Linked DNA regions of Homo sapiens: region 2 is linked to region 1. Evidence: fine-mapped expression QTL. A gene starts in region 1. The other region holds a variant in brackets. All regions are shown on one strand. Distances are from middle to middle. Region 1 holds the start of IGHMBP2 (immunoglobulin mu DNA binding protein 2). Region 2 overlaps LINC02701 (long intergenic non-protein coding RNA 2701).

Region 1 (8,576 bases):
GGATTACAGGCATGAGCCACCGTGCCCAGCCCAAGATCTTCTTCATTTCCTAACTCTCCCCTGCCTGCTCAGCCTCAGGTAGGTGGAGGGGAGAGGAAGGGAGGAAAGAAAGAGGGGGGCCTAGATTCAAAAGGAGGTGGGGTCTTTCTTTCTGTAGTCTACAAAGAGGGAGGGTAGGTAGATCCCAAACCGAATTATTCAGAACCGTTTTTAAGCTTTTATTGCTGCTGCCACTGCAAAGTAAAATTTCAGTCTTTCTACTCCAGGGTTGCATTAGGAGGAAGAAAACGACTTGCTCCATATGCAAAATGCACCGGCCTCCACACCAAAGACCAGGCCCACCCGTCCTGTTGGCTGGCGCGCAGGAGGGGCTCCACACCAATCTGGGAGAGGAATGAATGCTTTCCCAGTGGGGTAGGGCTTGGAGCTCCTAGAGACATGAACTCCGTGATCTGTGGTTGGTCAATGACCTTGAGAGACAAGGAGGACAAGGAAGGTGCTGCTCTCTACAAAACGTCTTTGACCTGTTTGATGTCTAGTCTCCCCATACGGGTTCAGCAGTGCCCAGTGTGAGAAGAACACGCTGGCAGGAAGGTGCTAACCTCTCACACAGGACACAGGGGTAGTAGGCACAACCTACCCACATGCTCACTTACAACTTCTTCCTATGCTCAGAATGTTTTGCCGCTTCTTTGAGAAGCAAGAAAGACTCCCACATCTCCCCACTGCAGAGGATCCCTGGAGTCCCAGCAGCAGTTCCAGCAGCCAATGTTTTGTGAGTGCTGACTGTATGCCAGGCACTGTTCTAAGAGCTTTAAATGTATACATTTACTTAATCCTCTCCAACACCCATGCAGATAGAAATGAACATTACTTCCATCTTGCAGAAGCCTGGCGTCCCAGGCTGTGAGGGGCAGCCGGAACTGCACCCCGGGGGGGTCCCTACAGTAACTGCTATCCCTGCACTGCTCCTGTGTCTCCCACCAGTGAGTGGAACTTTGTCGAATGTTTTCTGCAGTTTATGATACCTAAAAATGTTTTCTCAAGTATAAAATTTTAACACTGAATGTGCTTTTTCAAATAATGAGTTTCTCTTAGAGACTCTGATACAAACTTCCTCATCAGAAATCTTGAGTTAAGACTTCAAGCTCCTCCATAATAAAAGAGAGCAAACACATACAGAATTTCTCTTTGGTCTCTTGCAGTTACGTCTTCTTTTAAGGGTCTCAGAAAAATACCGTCAAAAAAGTTAAAGCTGAAAGTGGTGGTGCATGCCTGTAATCCCAGCTACTCAGGAGGCTGAGGCGGGAGGACCACTTTAGGCCAGGAGTTCAAAACCAGTCTGGGAAACATAGTGAAACTCTGTCTCTTAAAAACAAAAGAGGAAATTTAAATATTATTGAGAACCAAAAGGTAGGAAGTTTTGACTTTAGAAAGATGGTTCTACAAATGAAAGGAAAAGAGGCACCAAAACCCACATTTTGATATTACCCTGGTAGATATGAAGTGCTCTGTGAATTGAACCTTCGAGAAGCAGACCAAAGGGAGGCTGAGGGAAGAAGAGAAACACAGATCATTACCATTAATACTACAAATGCAAACTGCCCTTTATGATGCTAAATGCACAGCTGCTGCTCCTGGTACATGGTATGAACCACTGCATGACAGCCTGCCCACAGAAACACCTAGGTGAGCAAAACTACAAGAACGTCACTTACAGCTACTGGTTATATGTGTTGAGATCAGTTAGCCACATCATCTACAAGCGCCTGAGACCAGAACCACCCGTCCACTAACTCATGCCTTGACTAAGTGCCTGGTAGGTTCAGACTCTGATCTGTGCCCAAGCGTGGGAGCAGCCTCCAAGATGGCCCTGCTGGGCCCCGCCTCCTGCTATTCTTACCCCTGTTAGCCCCCTGGGAGTGGCCTGTGTGTCCAACAGCTAGTGACAGACATGCTAGCACGTGGCTTCTGGGATGAGGTGATAACCAACTGGGACTTCCATCTTGGATGCCTGTGCTCACCCTTTCTGATCTCTGGCCTTAGGGCTGCCCTGCTGTGAGCAGCCCTACCTAGAGGTCCACATGGCGGGGAACTAGGCCTATCGCCAACACCCATGGGAACGACCTTGCAGGTAGATTCTCCAGCCGCTGGCGCAGTGGAGTCTTGAGATAACTACAGCCCCTGCAGACTTGCTTGCTGCAAGCTAAGACCCTGAGCCAGAACCAGCCACTTAAGCTGCTTCTGTGTTCCTGGCTCTCAGAACTGGTGTGAGTTAATAAATGTTTTAAGCTGCTAAGTTTTGGGGTAATTTCTGATGTAACCGTAGATAACGCATACACCAGGAATACACCAGGAAACAAAGACATTCAATCTACTGAGAAGACAGGGGATCAAAATAAGTGCTTAGGTGTAAAAAGCAGAGAACAGTTTCTCAATAACCACTTTTAAAGAAACTCAGCTATAATTTACACACCATAAAAACCACCTTTTTAAAGTTCACCCATTAGCACCAGCTCCCCATTTGCATCTCCTCGGCTGCTTTCTCCTCTCCTCTCCCATTTGGGCATCCGGGGCTCAACCCTTGGCCTTGACCTCCTCTCCGCCCATGGCCATTCCTCTGGTGACTGCATCCAGTCCGATGGATTTAAACACCCCCAATGTGCTGGTGACTCCCAAGTTTACACCTCCAGCCAGGGCTTCTCTCCTGGTTTTGCATACCCACCTATCTATCTGCCTTAGCCACTCGTGTCTGACGAGCACCTCACACCTCCAGAGGCTCCTCATTTCTTCCCATGCCTGCTTCTCCCACACTCCTCCCTCTCACATGAGGGCAACTTCATCCTCCCAGTTGCTCAGGCCCCAAACCTCCATCAGTTTTGACTCTTCTCTCGCACACTACTCAGTCAACCCATTGGCAAATCCATCCCACTATTAAAAACTTAGCAGGCTTCTGTACCTAATTTGCTTCTAGCTTTGTTTTTGGGTCCCCAGGGAACAAACAGTCTCCTTCCTCTCCCACAGGATTTCCTTTAGGTAGTCCTAGAGACTGTGACTGTGTACTTCCATCACGTCTCCTTTGCTCACTCTTCAAGGCCCCAGCTGCTCACTGTTTTGGTCACCTTGTCTCTACTCGCTTCACTGTGTGTCTTTCTCTCCTAATGCGTGAGTCTGTACTTGAACATAGCATTGGAGGGGTGGTTTCATGTAGGTAGGTAGAATGGAGTAAGTCCCACTGCTTTTGTAAAAACTTTCCTGCCTACTTAAACCTAAGTTTTATTATGGAAAATGTCAAGCATACAAAAGTAAAGAGAACAGAATAGTGAACTCTCTCAATTATCCCTTTCCAGGTTCAACAGTTACCAACTCATGGCCAATTTTGGCATCTACATTGCCTCTGGCCCAACTCTGTGATTATTATTAATTTCTTAATAGACTTTATTTTTTAGCACAGTTTTAGTTTCACACCAAAATTGAGTGGAAGGTACAGAGAGTTCCCATATGTCCCCTGTCCATGTGCCCACAGCTTCCTATCAACATCCCTCACCAGAGTGGTACAATCTTTACAATTGATGAACCTACATTGACACATCATTGTTATCCAAAGTCCATAGTCTACATTAGGGGTTCACCCTTGGTAGTGTACATTCTATGGATTTGGACAAACTTATAATGACATGTATCTACCATTATATCATACAGAATAGTTTCACTGCCCTAAAAATCCTCTGAGCTCCACCTATTTATCCTTTTCTCCCCCAATCCTCTTACCCCCCATGTAACTTTTTACTGTCTCCTTAGATTTGCCTTTTCCAGAATGTCATAGTGGGAAACATACAAGATGTCCCCTTTTCAGGTTGGCTTCTTTTACTTAGTAACATGTATGTAAGTTTCCTCCATGTCTCTTCATGACTCATTTCTTTTTATTGCTGCATAATATTCTACTGTATGGATGTCCTACAGTTTATGTAACCATTCATCTCCTGAAGGACATCTGGGTTGCTTCCAAGTTTTGGGAATTATGGTACTATTCTTTTAATATCGTCCAATATAGAGTTAGATCCAGTTTTCCATTTTTGGGGGTCATGGTGAGACATGAAACCCAGGTTTAAAACATACATAAACACTCATGCACACAAATACACACTCCAACCATTTTCAAGCAGAGATTTATAGAGTTTTTAACGGACATAACCTTTTTGGAGCCTCGTATCAGCCCAGCGCCTTAAATACGGCTGTTTCTTTTGCAGAATGAGTTCAGATTAGGCGAGGATATCCATCACCATTTTTCAGACCAGCTCGCAGCCTGGGGGCAGTGGTTCAAGCACAGGCTTTGGAGCCGAAATGACTGCGCCTGAAGTACTCTTCTTCCACTTCCCCGCTGTGTGACCCTGGGCACGTTACCTAGCTCCTCTGAGCCTCACTCTTCTCCCCCATAACATAGGGCCTATACCAAAGTTCAAGGGCTATTGTCAGTATTCAGGCTACTAACTGAAGGAATCAAAATCTGAACCTGGGTTCCCCCGACTCCAAAACCCGTGCTATATTCACCACAAATGCGATCAACACACAAGGCACCAGGTCGGACCCAGGCACATACGTGGCGAGACCGCAGGGAGCAGCGCTCGCTCTGCGTCCTCCCTTCCTCCCATATCCCAGGTCTCACCTGCTCCGGGCCCCGAAGGTCTCAGGATGCTGTGGCTGCACGCGGACGCCAGCCGCCCTAAGGTGACCGTCAGGGAAGATGCTGCCATGGCCGCAGCCTCGGCCGGAAACGGAAACGACGCGAACCGCGTGCGTAACGCACGGGCCCGGCGGGGAACACCGGTCCGCTGTAACACCGGCCCGGCGCAGAAGCGGGACGTCGGCTTCTAGGGGCCCAGGCCGGCGGCGGCGATGGCCTCGGCAGCTGTGGAGAGCTTCGTGACCAAGCAACTGGACCTGCTGGAGCTTGAGAGAGACGCGGAGGTGGAGGAGCGCAGGTACGGGAGGCCGCCGGCGCCGCTCCCTCGCGGTCGGTCCCGCCGTGTCCCGGGCAGAGTCTCCGAGGGGCTCGGCCTCATAGTCTGGGGCGGGAATTTCGTCTCCGACCCTTCGAGTCAGGGGCAGGGATCGTCCGTCCCCTGCTTGGCCACCTCCCGAGTTGTCAGTCTCATCACTTCCTGGGCAGCGCGTTCCGTTTGGGGACCCTTAAGAAGCACTTTGATTTCCCGACCCGAGACCCCCCACTAAGCTTACACTCCTGGGCCCTGGCCCCGACCCCAGTTCCACCCGCAGCGAGTTAGCAGCCCTTTCCCTTATTCATTCAGTAAACATGGTTTGCGCCCATTCTCAGTCAGGCCCCGGCAGCATGAGTCAGGTGCACTGGCTGCCCCCGATCCGGCCAGCGGCGGGCTGGGCATAAGCAGAGAGTCCCTTCCCCTCCAGTGCGTCCAGGGCCGGCTGCGTGCGTGTCGCGGGGAAAGAGCCTGGAGGAGGAAGGCCCTTCCCTGGGGAGGGTCATGGTGGCTTCAAGGAGGGAGTGGTGCCTGAAGGAAAATTGGAGTTAAGCTGGTGGGTGCGGAGTAGGGTGGGGAGCCGTCCTGAGAGGTGTGGGGAGCCATGTGAGAGCCGGGCTTGTTTCCGAATGGGACTATTTACTTGTCCAAAACAATCAGAGCTAACACTTACGTACTTTCCATGCGTTAATTCTTTTACACCTCATCCCATGCCAACCCTACAGTGTAAGTTTCTTTTTTTTCTTTTTCTTTTTTTTTTTTTTAGACAGAGTCTCTCTCTGTCGCCCAGGCTGGAGTGCAGTGGCACGATCTCGGCTTACTGCAGCTTCCATCTCCCGGGTTCAAGCGATTCTCCTGCCTCAGCCTCCTGAGTGGCTGGGACTACAGGCGCGCCACCACGTCCTGCTAATTTTTTGTATTTTTAGTAGAGACAGGGTTTCACCATGTTGGCCAGGATGGTCTCGATCTCCTGACCTCGTGGTCTGCCCGCCTTGGCCTCCCAAAGTGTTGGGATTACAGGCGTGAGCCACCGTGCCCGGCCGCAGTGTAGGTTTCTGTTACTGTCATTTTCCGTCTAAGGAGATGGAGACAGAGAGGGGTTAAGTAACTTGCCCCGGGGTGACACAGTGTAGCCCGATTTGCTGTCAGGCAGTCTGCTTCCAGAGTTTGCAGTCAGCCATATGTGGGTAGGATTTGTCTGAGATGCTTTTGATCATGGCAATGGAGAGCTTTTGCAGTTATGTTGAGTTTCTTAGAATCCCAGCTGTTTCATTTATGGCTGTGTGACTTTGCAGGTTCTGTCTCTGAGCCTTACTTACTTCATCTGTAAAACTGGGATGATTCCCACCTCACAGGCTTGCTCTGAGAATGAAACGATCCCCTGTCAGTCAGGTGCTCAGCGTGGTGCCAAGGACAGAGTCAGCCCCCATGGCAGTGGCTCTTTCTGAGGATGCTGAGCAGACTGGCAGGGCGAGCCTGGGAAGGGCCTGGCTAAGGAGCTAGTCTTCTGTTCTGTGTATGAAGGATGGGCCATCAGCGGGGTTAAGCAGGTGAGGGAGGCGAATAGCTTTGCATTTTAGGAGGATTTCTTGGGTCTCCTGCTTTTGATTGGACGTGGAGAGGCCAGAGGTAAGGTAGTTGAGAGGCTCTGTTTAGTCCAGGTGAGCAGTGATGTGGATTTGAACCGGGGCTGTGGCAGCCAGGATGAGAGGCAGAGAAGTCCAGGTAGAAATGGGAGGGGCCTGATAGGACTTAGTGACAGATGGGAGGAGAGAGGGGAATGCTGATTGAAAGATCTGTCTCAGGTAACTGAGAGAAGGGTTGTGGCATTAACTGCCCTAGGGGGATGTAGGAGGAGCGGGATTGGGAGTGGAGCCAATTCGGAGTTCCATTGGGACATATTTAGTGCCTGTGAGTAGATCTTTATCTATGTTTCTTTCTCTTTTACTTTTCCTGGGTGGGTGGAAGTAGAAACTAGTAAAAATCCTGAAGCATCAATACCGGGTGTCTTCCAGGTCCTGGCAGGAGAACATCTCTCTGAAAGAGCTCCAGAGCCGAGGCGTGTGTTTGCTGAAGCTGCAGGTATCCAGCCAGCGCACTGGGCTGTACGGACGGCTGCTGGTCACCTTTGAGCCCAGGCGATACGGGTCCGCGGCAGCTCTTCCCAGTAACAGCTTTACTTCTGGTGTGTGCGTATTGACCTAGACAGACATTGAAATTTACTGGCATTCAGACCGTGACTTGTACCCTCGTAAAGACTGGATTAAAATGACCAGTTGGAGAATAAAGCGTTGCAATGAAGAACTCTTAATCAGAAGTCCAACAATTGATGTGGGTTTTAGTTGTCTAGATCAGCGTTGTCCAAAATGGTAGCCATTAGCCATGCGTGGTCATCAAATGTTTGAAGTGTGGCTTGTAATTGCCGCAGATACAGAATACACACCAAATTTGGAAGATTATGTTAAAAAAACAATTGGGAATATCTTGAGTAATTTTTCTGAATACTGATTACATGTTGAAATAATATTTTTCATATATTGGGTTAAATAAAAAATATCTTATTAAAATAATTTACCCATTTCTTTTCTTTTTTTTTTTTTTTTTTTGAGACAGAGTTTCGCTCTTATTGCCCAGTCTGGAGTGCAGTGGCATGATCTCGGCTCACTGCAACCTCCGCCTCCGGGGTTCAAGTGATTCTCCTGCCTCAGCCTCCCGAGTAGCTGGGATTAGAGGCATGCGCCACCGTGCCTGGCTAATTTTGTATTTTTAGTAGAGACGGGGTTTCTCCATGTTGTTCAGGCTGGTCTCGAACTCCCAACTTCAGGTGATCCGCCTGCTTTGGCCTCCCAAAGTGCTGGGATTACAGGTGTGAGCCAGTGCACCCAGCCTCTTTTAAATTTCTTAATATGGCTACTAGAAAACTTAAAACTACACGTGACTGGGTGCCTGTAATCCTAGCACTTTGGGAGGCCGAGGTGGGTGGATCACTTGATCTCAGGAGTTCGAGACCAGCCTGGGCAACGTGGCAAAACCCCATCTCTGCAAAAAAATAGAAAAATTAGCCAGATGTGGTGGTGTGTGCCTGTAGTTCCTGCTACTTGATGGGCTGAGGCAGGAGGATCGCTTGAACCTGGGAGGTTGAGGCTGCAGTGAGCTGAAATCACGCCACTGCACTCTAGCTTGGGGGCAAAGTGAGACCCTCTCTCAAAACAGACAAAAACAAAAGAAAAACTACATGTGACTCTCTTTATGTTTCTATGTAATGGGCAGCCTTGGTCCAGCTGGTAAACATGCAGGATGTGTACTTCTGTATTCCCAACCCTTTCTTGTGCCAAGCATGCTTTGGCTAAACTTGTGCCAGCCTGGTTGGAAAGGAGGGACAGTTAGAAGAAGCTTCTTAACCACACGCCTGGGATGCTTGTGTTAGACAACCACAGCCTTGGAAGCCTGGAGGAAGCAGCGTTGCCAGGGCTGTACTTTTTACTATGGAAGTGTCTCTGCCTTGTTTTGGTGGTGACGGAGTTTTAAATTTCATATTTTGATTTCGTAGACTTTAGCCCAACAATTACTGGAATACTG
Region 2 (8,576 bases), 25 kb before region 1:
CACTGGCTAGGTCACAAATTATGTTATGCTATAGATTACGTGACCTGTTACTGTATGATTAACTGCTTTTATTTTGCTACTGTTTTTATTTTGCTTCTGTAAGACCGCTTATAAAAACCCTGCTCTTTGTTCAGGGCTCAGCTTTCGGATGTGAATCCTCTGAGCCGGTGCGTACCTAAAATAAACAAATCCTCCTGTACTCTGTATTGGTTCCTCTGTTCCTCAGTTTATCGCAACAGTCATACATTGATTGAAGCTACCCCATGACTGAAGGACATAAAATCATCTTGAAACCTGAAATACCTACAAATATCTTGGGTGCCATCAGAGAAACCCCCTAGTGGGGATGGCAGTGCCAAGAAGAGTTTCCTAACAACATGGAAATGGTTTGTACAGGATGGTGCCACCTGGGGAAGGAAACCTACTCATCAGCAGGGTTCAGTTCAGCCCATCCCTGCACTGCGGCAGTTCCCCCCACACCCATTCATTTCGCGGTCCCAAGTGGTGGCCACGTTAAGCCAGTACGCACAAGTTCTTCTGATGGGCATCGATGTGTCCTACTTGAAGGAACCCCCACATTTCCACAGGGCCGCGCCCCACGTGGCCACCCCTTCAATAAGCCAGGTTTCTACCACCCTCCTGCCTGACCATGCGGCCGCTGCCCAGGAGCCAGTAAAAACCTAAACACAGGGGCTCCCACCACTGTTCAATTTTATTTTGTTTTGTTATGTTATGTTATGTTATGTTATGTTATGTTATTTATTTTATTTTTGAGATGGAGTTTTGCTCTGTCACCCAGGGAGTGGGGTGGAGTGGTGAAATCTCGGCTCACTGCAACCTCTGCCTCCCAGGTTCAAGCAATTCTCCTGCCTCAGCCTCCCGAGTAGCTGGGATTACAGGCACCTGCCACCACGCCTGCCTAATTTTTGTATTTTTTAGTAGAGATGGGGTTTCGCCGTGTTGCCCAGGCTGCTGTCAAGCTCCTGACCTCCAGTGATCTGCCCACTTTGGCCTCCCAAAGTGCTGGGATTACAGGCGTGAGCCACTGGGCCCGGCCTACCTTTCAATTCTTCCACCACTGCCAGGAAAACAGTGTGCAGTTCAGCCCACCAAGCTGATTTGTTTCCACCCTTCTTTGATCACAGTGGCATCCCTCCAGACCGGATGTTTCCTATTCACCACTAACCAGGCAGCTCTTTCCTGGCCAGTTGACAGCTGTGTATGGGGCATTCCCCAAGCGATGATAAAATCCGGCAGCTCAAATGAGAATTTATGAACACAAAGAAGCAAACAACAGACCTACTTGAGGGTGGTCTACTTGAGGGTGGAGGGTGGGAGGAGGGAGAGGAGCAGAAAAGATAACTATCGGGTTAATGCGGTTTGGGTGTGTCCCCACCCAAATCTCATCTTGAATTGTAGTTCCCACAATCCCCACGTGTTGTGGAAGGGACCCAGTGGGAGGTAATTGAATCATGGGGCAGGTTGTCCCCATGCTGCTGTTCTCATGATAGTGAGTGAGTTCTCACAAGATCTGATGGTTTTATAAAAAGCTTTTCTCCCTTTTGCTTGGCACTTCTCCTATCTGATGCCATAAGAAGAAGAACATGCTTGCTTCCCCTTCCGCCATGATTGTAAGTTTCCTGAGGCCTCCCCAGCCATGCTGAACTGTGAGTCAATTAAACCTCTTTTTAAAATAAAGTACTCAGTCTCCTGGGACACGGTGGCTCAAGCCTGTAATCCCAGCACTTTAGGAGGCTGAGGCAGGTGGATCACATGAGGTCAGGAGTTCAAGACCAGCCGGTCCAACATGGTGAAACCCCATCTCTACTAAAAATACAAAAAGTAGCCAGATGTGGTGGCACATGCCCATAATCCCAGCTACTCGGGAGGCTGAGGCATGAGACTCACTTGACCCTAGGAGGTAGAGGTTGCAGTGAGCTGAGATCATGTCACTGCACTCCAGCCTGGGTGACAGAGTGAGACTTCATCTCTAAATAAATAAATAAATAACCCAGTCTGGGGTATGTCTTTATTAGCAACGTGAGATACATGGGTACTGGGCTTAATACCTGGGTGATAAAATAATCTGTACAACAGGCCGGATGTGGTGGCTCAAGCCTGTAATCCCAGCACTTTGAGAGGCGGAGGTGGGAGGATCACCTGAGGTCAGGAGTTCAAGACCAGTCTGGCCAACATGACAAGACCCCATCTCTACTAAAAATACAAAAATTAGCTGGGCGCGGTGACAGGTGCCTGTAATTCCAGCTACCTGGGAGGCTGAGGCAGGAGAATCACTTGAACCTAGGAGGCAGAGGTTGCAGTGAACCAAGATCATGCCACTGAACTCTGGCCTGGGGGATAGAACGAGACTCTGTCTCAAAAAAAAAAAAAATCTGTACAACAAACCCCTGCGACATGAGTTTATCTATGTAACAAACCTTCACATGTATCCCTGAACCTAAAATAAAAGTTAAAAAAAACATCCAGCAGCTCCTCACACAGTTCCAGAGTCAGTCCCAGGGGATTCTCCCTGCTTGTGAGTCTCCTCCTTGCCTTCCCCAGCAAGGAGTCCCCATCCTTGCCTTCATATAGGATGGTTCACCATCCTATATGAACCATTTTCGTGTTGTTACGGAACTTTTCTTGGCGCTGTCATCTCCATTAGAGGGTTTCTGTGATGTCACCCAAGGTATTGTAGGTATTTCAGGTTTCAAGATTATTTTATGTCCTTCAGTCATGAGGTAGCTTCAATTAATGTCTAACAGCAAGTTAGTAAATGCCCCTCCAATGGAAATTTTCTAGTCCAAAGTCCCAGGTAGACTGGGTGTGATGGCTCATGCCTGTAATCCCAGCACTTTGGGAGGCCATAGTGAGAGGATTGCCTGAGTCTAGGAGTTTGAGACCAGCCTGGGCAATATGATTAAACCCTATCTCTACTACAAATACAAAAATTAGCTGGGCATGGTGGTGTGTGCCTGTAGTCCCAGCTACTCAGGAGGCTGAGGCAGGAGAATCGCTAGAACCCGGGAGGCAGAGGTTGCAGTGAGCTGAGATCATGCCACTGCACTCTAGCCTGGGCAACAGAGAGAGACTCTGTCTCAAACAAAACAAAACAAAACAAAACAAAACAAACAAACAAGCACCCTTACACACAGCGTTTTCCATGACCTGGGTAATGGGCATGTCCAGTAGAAACACATTCTGTTCATCACAAAGCCAACATCAAATGGCTTGTGTTCAAATCTGATGAGCTGCTCCGTCTGAGACATTTGACTTGGCATGTAGACGAGGAAAGGAACAGGGACCTTTCTCAGGGTACACAGACCCTACAGTGACTTTTACCCAGTCCAGCAGTCCAGCTGTCCCCTTGGGAGTCACCTCCTGCGTGTCTGAATCAGGGACAGCTCCCCGTGATTGTCCCATGGTGAGCTGCGGGTGCTGTGTCAACCCAAACACACTCTTCCACCCTGCAGCATTTAAAACTGAAGACACTGATCCTAAATCAGCTACTGCCAGAATCCATTTTCCTAAAGGCGCCCCAGGAAGCAGAAAACATGGAGCTACAAAATGAAACCCTTCCGTCACACTCCACGGCCTGGCTTTGGCAGTCGCTTGGTTCTGTCCTCCCTGCTGTGGACCACCTTGTTGGTGACCAGAGTTCTCAGAGGCACTTTCTGTTATTCCTGCGTCATTTTGCCCTTGGGAGTCAGCTCTGAGGCTAGCAGCCTGTCGTCCAAAAGGCCACCAGGATGGCCAGATAGTAGAAAGAGCTGGACTGGTGATTTCAGCTTGCAAATCAGGGAGAGGTCATCTCCGGTGTGGACTGAAGGTTTGCTGTCTTCCAAGAGGGAAAGGGCAGGTGAGGTTGATGACTCACAGGGCCCGTATCACACAGCAGAGTCACACGTATTCAGCAGGTTTGGAGGAAAAGCTATATTTGTTCATAATGGGGGTTGAGTGCACGTGCGATGGGTAAACATGCATGTAACATACATTCCATGTTCACTTTGGGGTGGGGCTCTGGCTTTAAAATGAGGTGGAATGTGGCTCTTTTCATCAAAATGTGAGCTATAAGGCTGGGTGTGGTGGCTCACGCCTGTAATTCCAACACTTTGGAAGGCTGAGGTGGGAGGACTGCTTGAGGCCAGGAGTTCAAGACCGACCTGGGCAACATAACAAAACCCTGTCTCTACAAAAAAAAAATTAAAAAAATTAAAAAGAAAAAGGGCAGGGCTGGGCACGGTGGCTCATGTCTGTAATCCCAACACTTTGGGAGGCCAAGGTGGGCAGATCATTTGAGGTTGGGAGTTTGACACCAGCCTGGCCAACATGGTGAAGCCCCATTTCTACTAAAAATACAAAAATTAGCTGGGTGTGGTGGTG[G/A]GCACCTGTAGTCCCAGCTCCTCAGGAGGCTGAGGCAGGAGAATAGCTTGAACCTGGGAGGTGGAGCTTGCAGTGAGCCAAGATCATGCCATGGCCCTCCAGCCTGGCCCACAGAGCCACCATCTCAGAAACAAAATGAAACGAAACAAAACGAAACAAAACAAAACAAAAAAAGAGGGAGGGTACAGTCACATTGTTTTGAGGTCTTGGTTAAACCTACTGAATCCACACGTTGCATGTGAAAAGGAGGCAGAGGAACAGTCCATTATGTATTCTTCTCGAGCTCAATAAAACTACATTTTTATGAGAAAGAAGTCAAATATGCATTGAGGTGGGTGGTGATGGCAGGTATCTTTTCTTTCTTTCCTTCCTTCCTTCCTTCTTTCCTTTCTTTCCTTCCCTTCCCTTCCTCCCCTCCTCCCTCCCTCTCTCTCTCTCTCTTTCTTTCCAATCTCGACTCACCGCAACCTCTGCCTCCCGGGTTCAAGCGATTCTTCTGCCTCAGCCTCCTGAGTAGCTGGGATTACAGGCATGTGCCACCACGCCTGGCTAATTTTGTACTTTTAGTAGAGATGGGGTTTCTCCATGTTAGTCAGGCTGGTTTCGAACTCCAACCTCAGGTGATCTGCCTGCCTCAGCCTCCCAAAGTGCTGGGATTACAGGCGTGAGCCACTGCGCCCGGCCAGTGGGAACCATTTCTAGTCTCCTCTTGTTCCATGCCTGTGAAGATAAGCTGTTAATTGACATTGTCAGGGTGGCCTCTCTTCACGGGTGGCCTCTTATCTTGTTGCTCTGTGTTTAGGAACAAAAGGAAAGGCAGGATTTGTGTCACTTGGCTTCCCAGCTTAGCCCTTCCCTTTGGCATAGCAGGTTTGGGGTCTCCAGATTTTATTTTCCTTTCACAATTCTGACACCAACTGGGGGAAAACACACTGTGTTTTTCTACTTCTGACACCAGATGTGGGTGTTTTTTTCCACACCAAGCAGTTCTCCAAATACCAGCTGGGCAGTCCTGCAATGTAATCCAATGCTGCCTCTGTCGACCTGGTGTTGGCACAGACCCCACAGGTTAAGCGCCCAGTCCCACAGACTGCCTCCAGTTCGGATGTCAATCCCAAGTCCAAGCTCAGGCCTCCAGCACTTCTAACCCATTGCCTGTCAGTTGGGGGTTCTCACGACACTCTCCTAACGGTCCGTTATTTGCTAGAGCAGCTCACAGAACTTGGAAACACTTCACCGATTTATTAGAAAGGACACAAACTCAGGAACAGGCACATGGAAGAGATGCACAGGGCAGGGTGTGCTGGGGTGGGGCTGGGACGGAGCTTCCATCCCCTTTCTGAACATGCCACCTGCCCAGCATCTCCACCTGTTCAGCATCCTGGAAGCTCATCAGATCTAGTTGTTCAAGAGGTTTTTTAGTGCTGAGGGCAGTGGCTCACGCCTGCAATCCCAGCACTTTGGAAGAGGCCAAGGCAGGAAGATCCCTTCAATTCAGGAGTTCCAAACCAGCCTGGACAGCGCAGGGAGACCTCTTCTCTACAAAAAATTTAAAAATTAGTCAGGTGAGGTGGTGGGCCTGGGTGACAAAAATTAAAAAAAAAAAAAAATGAGACAGGGTCTCGCTCTGTTGCCCAGACTGGAGTGCAATGGTGCCGAATTTGCTCATTGCAACCTCTGCCTCCCGGGTTCAAGCGATTCTCCTGCCTCAGCCTCCTGAGTAGCTGGGATTACAGGTGCCTGCCACCACGCCCAGCTAATTTTTTTGTGTTATTACTAGAGATGGGGTTTCACCATGTTGTCCAGGCTGACCTCAGGTGACCCACCCGCCTCGGCCTCCAAAGTGCTGGGGTTACAGGCTTGAGCCACCGTACTCGGCCAAAAAAAAGTTTTCAAAGAGGTTAATCTCTAGTCACCACGTCCCTCCTTCCTGGAGGTTAGCAGGAGGTGTTGAAAGTTCCAGCCCTGGAGTCCTTTGGTCTTTCTGGTGACTGCAAACCCTCCCCAATCTGAGGTTATTTGGGGGCCCTACCCTAATTTATCTCATTAGCATAAACTCAGCTGTGATCAAAAGGGCACGTATGAATCACAAAAGACAATCCCATGACTCTGGAAATTCCAAGGGTTTTAGGTGTTCTATGCCCAGAACAGGGGACAAAGACCCAGTATATTTCACAGTATTCCACGGTTGTCTGATGTGAGCCGGTTTTATTTTTGTGAGCAAGTGATAAAATCTTAGAGTAAAGCCCCCAAGGGCTAGGGCTTATTTGTTATGGTTGCAGAATGTACCCTGTGCTGACAAACACACCAGGGGATTCTAAAGCGCCGTCAGGGACCTGGTGTGGTGGCCCATGCCTGTCATCCCAGCACTTTAGGTGGCCCAGGAGGGAGGACTGCTTGAGGCTAGGAGTTTGAGACAAGCCTGGGCAACATAGTAAGGACCCATCTCTACAAAAAAAATACAAAAATTAGCTGGGCCTGGTGGCACACACCTGTGGTCCCAGCTACTCGGGAGGCTGAGGTGAGAGGGTCACTTGAGCCCAGGAGTTGGAGGTTAACGGTGAGCTATGATTGTGCCACTGCACTCCAGCCTGGGTGACAGAGCAAGACCCCATCTCTAAAATAAAATAAATAAAAATAAAGTGCAGCCAGGGGTGAGACTCACCAGAACCTCTGTGCCGTTCAGTTTCTTCATGTGTAAGATGTGAAAAGTCCCAGAGCCTCTGTCACAAGGCCCTTCCTAGGAAGGGGGTTAGGTGAATTGCACAGGTTGTGCCTGGTCCAGTGCTCTGCACATAGAAACGCTCAACAAACATCACTGTGAGCTCCTTCAGCAGTCAGGGACCTTCCTACTCCACTGGACCCAGAAGCACTGGGCACCACACTCTCTGTTCCTCTTTTATTTTTTCCTTTCTTCTTTCTTTTTCTTTCTTTCTTTCTTTCTTTTTTTTTTTTTTTTTGGACAGTGTCTCACTCTGTCACCCAGGCTGGAGTGCAGTGGTGCAATCTTGGTTCACTCCATCCCCGAGGCTCAAGGGATCCTCCCTCCTCAGCCTCCCAAGTAGATGGAACTACACGTGTGCACCACCACACCTGGCTAGTTAATTTTTTTTTTTTTAGAGAAGAAGTCTCCCTAAGTTGTTCAGGCTAGTCTCGAACTCCTGAGCTCAAGAGATCCACATGCCTCAGCCTCCTAAAGTGCTGGGATTACAGGTGTAAGCCACCGTGCCTGGCCTGTTTCTCTTTTATTTTTTGAAACAAACAAGTTCTTACTTTGTCTCCCAGGCTGGAGTGCAGTGGGGTGAACACAAGCTCATTGCAGCCTCGACCTCCCTGGCTCAAGCGATCCTCCCTCCTCAGCCTCCCAAGTAGCTGGGACTACAGGCATGTGCCACCATGCCAGGCTAACTTTCATATTTTTTGTAGATATGGGGTTTCTTCATGTTGCCCAGGCTGGTCTTGAACCCCTCAGCTGAAGCAATCCACCCATCTCGGCCTCCTGAAGTGCTGGGATTACAGGTGTGAGCCACTGTGCCCGGCTTTCCATGTTCCTTTGTCTACTCAGGGAAAGGACTGCATCTTCTCACCCTTTGTCCATTTCTTCTTTGTCCTGCTGAGTCATGGCAGCCCTCGTGCCATATGATTTTATTTTACACAACTGTATTCCATCCATCAGTTCCTTTGAGTGTTGGTTCTGGAGGGAGGACCTCTGTGTCTCCTGGTAGCATCACCCGGAAGAAGAAAAGAAGGAAGCAAGATGGCGCCTTTCAGGAACACAAGTCAGCCAGGGTTTCTGCACCATTCCTGGTCTATGCCCCGGGAGCCAGGGCCTCGACTCTGCAGAGCCCAGTCACGGGAAGAGGTGTCCGTGCAGGAAGTGGGTCGGAGAGCACCCAGCCTTCCAGGTGTGCTTCTCTCTCTTTTTTTTTTTTGAGACAGAGTCTCGCTCTTGTTGCTCAGGCTGGAGTGCAATGGTGCGATCTTGGCTCACTGCAACCTGCGCTCCTGAGTTCAAGCGATTCTCCTGCCTCAGCCTCCCGAGCAGCTGGGATTACAGGCGCCCACCACCACACCCAGCTAATTTTTTGTATTTTTAGTAGAGATGGGGTTTCACCACGTTGGCCAGGCTGGTCTCGAACTCCTGACCTCAGGTGATCCACCCACCTTGGCCTCCTAAAGTTCTGGGATTACAG

Evidence for each region.
Region 2: its variant is fine-mapped to the expression of IGHMBP2 in whole blood (TOPMed, PIP above 0.99). The same link has a PIP of 0.9 or more in blood mononuclear cells.

Annotation. Positions count from the first base shown.
Region 1 is chr11:68,899,057-68,907,632 of GRCh38, forward strand. It overlaps IGHMBP2 (immunoglobulin mu DNA binding protein 2), which reads left to right and starts at 4,835. Exons shown (of 15, transcript NM_002180.3): 1 at 4,835-4,982; 2 at 7,013-7,182. The coding sequence starts at 4,897. MRPL21 (mitochondrial ribosomal protein L21) reads right to left here and starts at 4,776. Exons shown (of 7, transcript NM_181514.2): 1 at 4,667-4,776; 2 at 1,492-1,549. The coding sequence starts at 4,754. RefSeq lists enhancers at 4,649-5,376, 4,808-4,927, 5,258-5,317.
Region 2 is chr11:68,874,345-68,882,920 of GRCh38, forward strand. LINC02701 (long intergenic non-protein coding RNA 2701) reads left to right here. Exons shown (of 2, transcript XR_950253.3): 2 at 1-204. Among named protein-coding and RNA genes, the nearest start is that of LINC02701, 10 kb to the left of the region's middle. The variant G/A (reference allele first, on the strand shown) is at 4,384.